2 linked regions of the Homo sapiens genome follow. The protein of the gene in region 1 purifies or fractionates together with the protein of each later gene. This does not show direct contact. Each region holds a gene or a part of one and is shown in the gene's direction. Other genes may lie near its edges. The genes, in order: LMOD3 and PLS1.

What was found.
Region 2: the proteins of LMOD3 (region 1) and PLS1 purify together in Homo sapiens (affinity purification with mass spectrometry; one large-scale study listed by BioGRID and IntAct). This does not show direct contact.

What each region holds. Positions count from the first base shown.
Region 1 is NC_000003.12:69,119,749-69,124,000, reverse strand, and holds the start of LMOD3 (leiomodin-3), read left to right. Parts: upstream 1-1,405; 5' UTR 1,406-1,614; coding exon 1,615-1,908; intron 1,909-3,940; coding exon 3,941-4,252. UniProt on the Homo sapiens protein: Essential for the organization of sarcomeric actin thin filaments in skeletal muscle. Increases the rate of actin polymerization.
Region 2 is NC_000003.12:142,599,135-142,602,955, forward strand, and holds part of PLS1 (plastin-1), read left to right. Parts: intron 1-1,393; exon of another isoform or gene 1,394-1,612; intron 1,613-3,821. UniProt on the Homo sapiens protein: Actin-bundling protein. In the inner ear, it is required for stereocilia formation. Mediates liquid packing of actin filaments that is necessary for stereocilia to grow to their proper dimensions.

The sequences.
Region 1 (4,252 bases):
TAGAGTACACAGTTGCCTAGAAAAAAAGAATCCTGACTTTCTCAGTCAAAAAAACAGATGAGAAAAAATGATAGAGTTTGTATGCCTAAAAGAAAGGACTGGAATGAAAAAACTGAAATGTTAATAGTGGTAGCTTCACAGTGAGGTAAGGGGAAGATTTTGTTCTGTGCCTTTCTATGTTATCCTAACTCTTGTACAATGAATGTATATTTCGGAATAAGAATATATTTACGAGCCAGGCACGGTGGCTCACGCCTGTAATCCCAGAACTTTGGGACACCGAGGCAGGTGGATTGCTTGAACTCAGAAATTCGAGACCAGCCTGAGCAATATGGCAAAACCCTGTCTCTACAAAAAATACAATTAGCTGGGTGTAGTGGTGCATGCCTGTGGTCCCAGCTTGATCCTGGGAGGCAGAGGTTGCAGTGAGCTGAGATCGCAGCACTGCCCTCCAGCCTGGGTGACAGAGCCAGACCCTGTCTTAAATATATATATAATAAAACTTGTATATTATATATTATTGTACCCTTTGTCACACAAATAATGGCATGTAAAACACACTGTTTTGTACTTTGCTATATTGTGTAACCTTGTACACACGTTGTTTCACCCATGTAGGGGTATATCTGTAGGATACACTTCTCAAAGTGGAATTGCTGGGTCAAAGGAAATGGGCATTTGTAATTTGGACAAATGTTGCATATTGCCCCTTCAGGGTTTGAAAACAAAATCTTCTCATAGTTTCTTTTAGTATATTAGTGGTCTGGATTTCTTTTTTAACACTTCACTTTAGAGCCATTTTCATTGATATTGGCTTAATGGATACTTAATAAGAAAAGCAAATAATTTAAAATATTAAACTCACTTATAGTGGAAATCCAAGTGCTGGTTGTCCCCATCTGTTAGATCACAGGATCTAGATGCAAACAGGACATCTTGCAAAGGTTCGGCTTACACAGAGGATGAGTGACATAGCAAGACCTCTGTTCCACTGTGCACCACTTTATTTGCTTCCACACTCACCTTGTAGGGAAGAGGCAGACCCTAAGAGCTTGATTTCTACCTTCAAGTGAATTCTTTACTTCAGAAACAACTCAGGTTGCTGGTTGGATTTCCCTTCTGAAATATTGTAAGTTGCTTTAATATTTAAATAAAAACAAGTGGAATCCCCTGGAGTATTGGGGTATGTATGTATGAGCTGCATGAATTTGTGTATGGCAATATGATGGCATATAGGAAGATAATTAATTTTATTCCTGCAGAGATTCTGTAGTCTCTGCTAGTCTCTGGCAAACATAGCAGCTGTACTGAAATGTCAGATGGATTTGCGCAGCTGACTCAAGTTGCCAAAAAGAGAGCAGCATAGTTGTTCCATAAATTGACCCCATCCAGCCAAGCCCTGCTTAATATAGATCCGGCAAGAGCTTAGCTGTGATCACTCCTAGCTGCTCAGCAAACCACTGAGGTTCCTGGGAAAAAAAAAAAAATATCTCAAGGGTGTGTTAACTTGGGACACTCGTTAACTGGGGGACCTTCTTGAGGCTTTTTTCCTTCTTTTTAAAAATCATCTTTGATTATTCTTCTTTTCTAGTAAAATAATATTTAGAAAAAATAATGTCAGAGCACAGCAGAAATTCAGATCAAGAAGAACTTCTCGATGAGGAGATTAATGAAGATGAAATCTTGGCCAACTTGTCTGCTGAAGAACTGAAAGAACTGCAGTCGGAAATGGAAGTCATGGCCCCTGACCCCAGCCTTCCCGTGGGAATGATTCAGAAAGATCAAACTGACAAGCCACCGACAGGAAACTTCAATCATAAATCTCTTGTTGATTATATGTATTGGGAAAAGGCATCCAGGCGCATGCTGGAAGAGGAACGAGTTCCTGTCACCTTTGTGAAATCCGAGGTAACCAGAGATTTGTGTACAACCGAGAAATGGCTGCCTGGGATGGGCTGTTAGGTCTCTCTGTTGTAACTGTGATTTCTCAAGACTCCAGGGTTTGGTTCTGCTTTGTTTTTGCCATATCTAGATTAAACCATAATATTTAATCCTACTCCGACTGGAACTTTCTGAAACACATTTATATTTACAAGGGGAAAATTGGGTAATTTCTTGCAAATGTCTCTTTTTAAAAATTGCTGTCGGGTTTGCTGTGTCAGAAAGCCTGTGTTCTATTGCCACGATACTTAGTGACTTAACTCATAACCCAGAGGCAGTTGTCCTTACCTCTCTCTTTCTTTTTTATTGCAGGCCCCTTTGAGAAAGTAATGACAGCTCTGTAGCCTCTGTCTCTCTGGCACATCCAAACATACGCAGTGTTTCGCACACAGTGTCAAACATTTCAGTCCTCCTGAAGTCTGGCCACACAACCTGCAATTAAACCAAGTCGAATAACCAGAAAATGTCTTATATTATTACTATGTATTGGCTGTCAGTGATGACATTTAGAAATCGATGGCTATTAAGTGGTTTTGAAGCTAGTTCTTCACTTTCTAAAACCTGAAAGCTAGAATTGTTAACTCTGCAAACTTACTGTGCATGAGCATAATTTTTTTTTTTATGTTCCACTTGAAAATGACTTAACAAAAAGAGGACAGAGATGCCTCCTAGGTAAAGTCTCTTTAGGTTATGCCTGTTTACAAAGATACATCTTGTTAAATTACTCTGAAGCTGGCTGTAATTAAGGAAAGTTGTCAATTGGTTTTACAGTCAGTAGAGTTTAAACATGTGCTAAGATTAAGAAAAGAAACAGCTGGATTGATCAGGTTAGAGTTCAAGGTACAATTTGCAGATTTTTTACAACTGGAGATCAATGGATGAAAAGCCAATTCTATGTGAATGCCAGTTTCAGGGGGTAAAAACGAGTACTTGCAACATGTTTTTCCTTCCTCTGGTATAACTTGAACAGCTTGATGGTTGGCTCCCCCTTCTGGTCAAGGTGAGAAATGCAGTGGTGAAGACTTCAGGTGGTTAAGGTGACTTGTCACTGTCTCTTCTGACCTATGTTATGAGCATGAAATTTTTGCTCAAATGAACCTGTGTCTCAACTTGCTATACTGGCTTTCAAAATGATATCTATGAGGCCCACAAGTTGCATAGAAAAGCATTATAATTGATGTGCAAGAATCTAATACATATTATTGATAAAAGGCCCATTTTATTTCCCAGACTAAGCAATTATTTCTCAATGTCTGCATAATCCTGTTTCATCTTACAGCTGGCCCTGGTTCCTAGGCACTTTCTTTCACAAGAAACTGGGATAGTAAACTTGTCCTAGACAGAGTATCATGGCAGTTGTCAAAGAACTGAAAAAATAGAATCAAAATTGAGGTTTTAAATATATATATGTATATATATATATTCAAAATCAAAATTGAGGTTTTTAAATATATATATATTCCAAAATGTCAAACGTATCTAATTTCCCATACATTATGTTATGTTCTCAGAGGAAGTTCATGTACATTCTATACTAGATTAGTAGACATTGTAGGGATGTTAATTTTAGGGCAATAATTTCCTTATTCTAATATATTTATAGTATCACATTTATAATATATTGGAATAATAAGGAAATTATTGCCCTAACTCAGGACTGTTGGGTACTAGATGCCTATTTGGTAGATACAAAATCAAAGCTTCAGTGTATCGATGAACAATTCTATGAGGTTTTCAAAACAATTTTTAACTGCTTCTGAAATTAAACACCATTAAAAAGTACAGAATATTAAAATTAATAAGGTTTCCTTTTAATACTCATTTTAATTTATGGGATAGAATAACCACCCATTTTTAGCAATCAGCTATTTAAATAAGGATTATTTAAAATAGCAACCAGCTCTTTTAAATAAGCATTTTTATTATCTCCACTAGCTGATGCTCCACTTCATATTTCTTCTCTGCTATGTATTCTAACCCTCATAAACCTCTCTTGTAGGAAAAGACTCAAGAAGAGCATGAAGAAATAGAAAAACGTAATAAAAATATGGCCCAGTATTTAAAAGAAAAGCTCAATAATGAAATAGTTGCAAATAAAAGAGAATCAAAGGGCAGCAGCAATATCCAAGAAACAGATGAAGAAGATGAAGAAGAAGAAGATGATGATGATGACGACGAAGGAGAAGATGATGGTGAAGAGAGTGAAGAAACGAACAGAGAAGAGGAAGGCAAAGCAAAGGAACAAATTAGAAATTGTGAGAACAACTGCCAGCAGGTAACTGACAAAGCATTCAAAGAACAGAGAGACAGA
Region 2 (3,821 bases), about 73 Mb from region 1:
GCTTTGCAGTATCAGACACTCAATAGTTATTACATGAATGAATGAATAAATAAATAAATAAATAAATAAATAAATAAATAAAAAGTGCATTTTGCCATGGGGAGGGTGGGCATTTAGGATCTTAGAGCTATATGGTAGCGCTTTATCCAGACTATCCCCTAATTGTATAGAGGAGGGACTCAGATATTCTTTTTTTTTTTTTTTTTTTTTTTTGAGATGGAGTCTCGCTCTGTCGCCCAGGCTGGAGTGCAGTGGCGCAATCTCGGCTCACTGCAAGCTCCGCTTCCCAGGTTCACGCCATTCTCCTGCCTCAGCCTCCCGAGTAGCTGGGACTACAGGCGCCCGCCACCGCGCCCGGCTAATTTTTTGTATTTTTAGTAGAGACGGGGTTTCACCTTGTTAGCCAGGATGGTCTCGATCTCCTGACCTCATGATCCACCCGCCTCGGCCTCCCAAAGTGCTGGGATTACAGGCGTGAGCCACCGCGCCCGGCCAGATATTCTTAACTAAGCTAGTTAGTGGGATAGCCAGAAGCTCTGTTCAAATTTCCTCATTACTAGACCCAAGCTCTTTTCATTAACTATTACTTTTTGAGGTTGTTGGCCCCACGATTATTTTTATTTATTTATTTATTTTTTGAGACAGGGTCCCACTCTGTCACCCAGGCTGGAGTGCAGTGGCACGATCACTGCTCACTGCAGCCTTGACCTCCCCGGGCTCAAGTGATCCTTCCCACCTCAGCCTCCCAAGTAGCTGTGGCCACAGGCACGTGCCACCATGCGTGGCTAATTTTGTATTTTTTTGTGTTTAGAGATGGGGTCTCACTATTTTTCCCAGGCTGGTCTTGAATTCTTTGGCCTGCCTCAGCCTCCCAATGTGTTAGGATTACAGGCCTGAGCCACCATGCTCAGCCTCCCAAGATTAATTTGAGTTGGTAGCAAGACACTCCAGTTCAAGATGTTCTGTGGACTGAAAGCCCTCAGAAACCAATCTAAGGGGGAAATTTGGTGGTCGATGAGAGAATGTGTGTGTCATCGGAAGAGGTGAAACACAAGGCTGCTGGCCAGTTCAAGGTTGAGTGTACACAGTGAGGAGGGAGTGAGGCTGGGGTCCTAGGAATCTTCACACTGGGGAGTTGAAGTCTGGAAAGGTCATGGTAGCTTAGCTTGTCAGAGGCAGACACAAATGGGTTGGCCCAAAGTCCTTGGGACTGAGAGTCTATTTCCTAGATATATTGTACACTACCAGGAGGTGGTGAGCAATGGCTTTGGAGAGGGTAGGCCAGGTGCAGTGAGGGTAGGCCAGGAGGGTGGCACCAAAGGGTGGTGTTTATGACCCAAGAACATGGGGGTGAGGTAAGGCTGAGAGAGAGACAATTGTGATCAGATTCTACCTGGAAAAACAAGACAGAAAGCAGTGCTGCTGAATCCAAACTTCCAGTTCAAGAGGTGGTTTGGAATATTTGTTTACTTGGAACAGATGTTGCATTTTGCAAATCATAGCCATTTTGCAAATCAAAACACAGCCTTTCCATTGAGCTGCACACAGCGATGAGGGAGCTGTTGGATGCCACATCCTTGCCATTGACTTGCACACTGTGGTTGACCACCATCTTCATATTTCCACAGGCAACGATGGTCCATTAAAAATGTCAAGGAGAGAGAGAGCAGTTGAGAGGAGAGACAGAACAAATGAGCTTGAGAAATGGCTAGCAGTGGGGAAGGGAAGGGTTGGCCTGGTTTCATATATATATATATATATATATATATATATATATATATATTTTTTTTTTTTTTTTTTTTTTTTTGAGACGGAGTCTCGCTCTGTGGCCCAGGCGGGAGTGCAGTGGCGCAATCTCGGCTCACTGCAAGCTCCGCCTCCCGGGTTCACGCCATTCTCCTGCCTCAGCCTCCCGAGTAGCTGGGACTACAGGCACCCGCCACCACGCCCGGCTAATTTTTTTTTTATTTTTAGTAGAGACGGGGTTTCACTGTGTTAGCCAGGATGGTCTCGATCTCCTGACCTCGTGATCCGCCCGCCTTGGCCTCCCAAAGTGCTGGGATTACAAGCATGAGCCACCGCGCCCGGCCTATATTTTTTATATATATATGTTTTTCATGATGACGTTAGTGAAAATTGATTAGGCAGATGCAAAATCAGGTAGTATGTTGAAGTTAATGTCTCATACACTTAAATGTCCAAATATTAAATCCTAGAATTTACCATGGCCCTTTGTAAAATGACAAATATCTTTCTTAAAATAATAATAGTAATATTAGTAACTAGTATTACAGAATATCTTCCATGAACCAGGCACTATACTAAATACAAGTAATATATCATTTCATCTTTATAAACCATCCTGTGAGATAGGTGCAACAATTACTCATTTATTTTTAATTTTTATTTTTTAAAAACAGGGTTTCAGTCTGTCACCCAATCTGGAGTGGAATGGCACAGTCATAACTCACTGTAACCTTGAACTCCTGGGCTCAAGCAGTCCTCCCGCCTCAGCCTCCCAGGTGTGGACCAACGTGCCCGGCTTATTAAAAAAAATTTTTTTATAGTGATAAGGTCTTGCTATGTTGTCTAGGCTGATCTCAAACTTTTAGCCTCAAGCAATCCTCCCACCTCAGCTTCCCGAAGCCCTGAGATTACAGGCATGAACCACTGCACCTGACCTACCCTCATTTTCTAGATGAGAAAATTGAGGCTTAGAGAGATAGATAAAAGCATTTATCTGAGGTCATATAGTTTACAAGTGGCTGAGCTGAGATTTGACCCCAGGCCTATCTGACTTTATACACTGAGCGCTCAAATAACTTAATCAAATATCTTAACAAAAATGCAAAGCTCTTTCTGAGGTAACTCTAACAGATGCTTAGAATAGCCACAGGTTTCAGCTGGTGGAACCACCAACATTCTTTGAGCCACATTTAAAAAAACCAAAACAACAGTGGTAAATCGTTCCGGTTTTTTTTTTTTTTCATTCCACTTAGTCTTTATCTCCTTTTCTCTTGAAGCATTCCTAGAGAAAGGGACAGCAGCTTTTTCTCTGGGTACACCATTAAAGCCACTTCTGATCTGCTCCCACCCTCTTTTGGGGTGGAGCTGTGATTGGGGAGTGAGTTGGTGGTCATCCAGGGCGTGTCTGTGGAGTTGGCAATGGGAAACTGGGAAGCTCACCTTGTGTAGGAGCCTAAGAACTCTGGAGTGACCAGGTATAAGGATTTCTTTCCCTGGGGTGTCAGGATCCACTGCTGGAAGCTCCTGGAATATCTATGGATCATGACTCTAATCTTAGGCCTTTGAACTATGGCCATAAACCCCCAGGAAGAATCCAGGTGTGAACACATTCTCCCCCAATTTTTAAGATTGGGGAGTTGTGAAGTCCCTGTGGACTAATTGGAGGTGGGTGTGGATACCTCAGGAAAGGCCCCAGGTCAAAGACAAATAATTTAAAGGCCCCCCCCACCCCATAGGCCCCAGCTTTGACCTGTGAGAAAATGTGCTCCTCTCCCTCCTCTTGATGAACCTAATTACATAGAGAACTTACTCTCCTGGGAGTCTCAAAATGGAACTCAGCTGAGAGCGTGCTTCCCTCCCTTGCTGCCTGAGCTCTCTTTCCATTTCCTGGTTCTGCTTTACCTTCCCCTGAGTGGTTCTGTGTTCCCAGGATATGAAAGGCAGGGCCGCAGCTTCTGGCTTCACCGGGCTAATTTTTGTATTTTTAGTAGAGTCGGGGTTTCACCATGTTGGCCAGGCTGGTCGCCAACTCCTGACCTCAAGTGACTCGCCCGCCTCAGCCTCCCAAAGTGTTG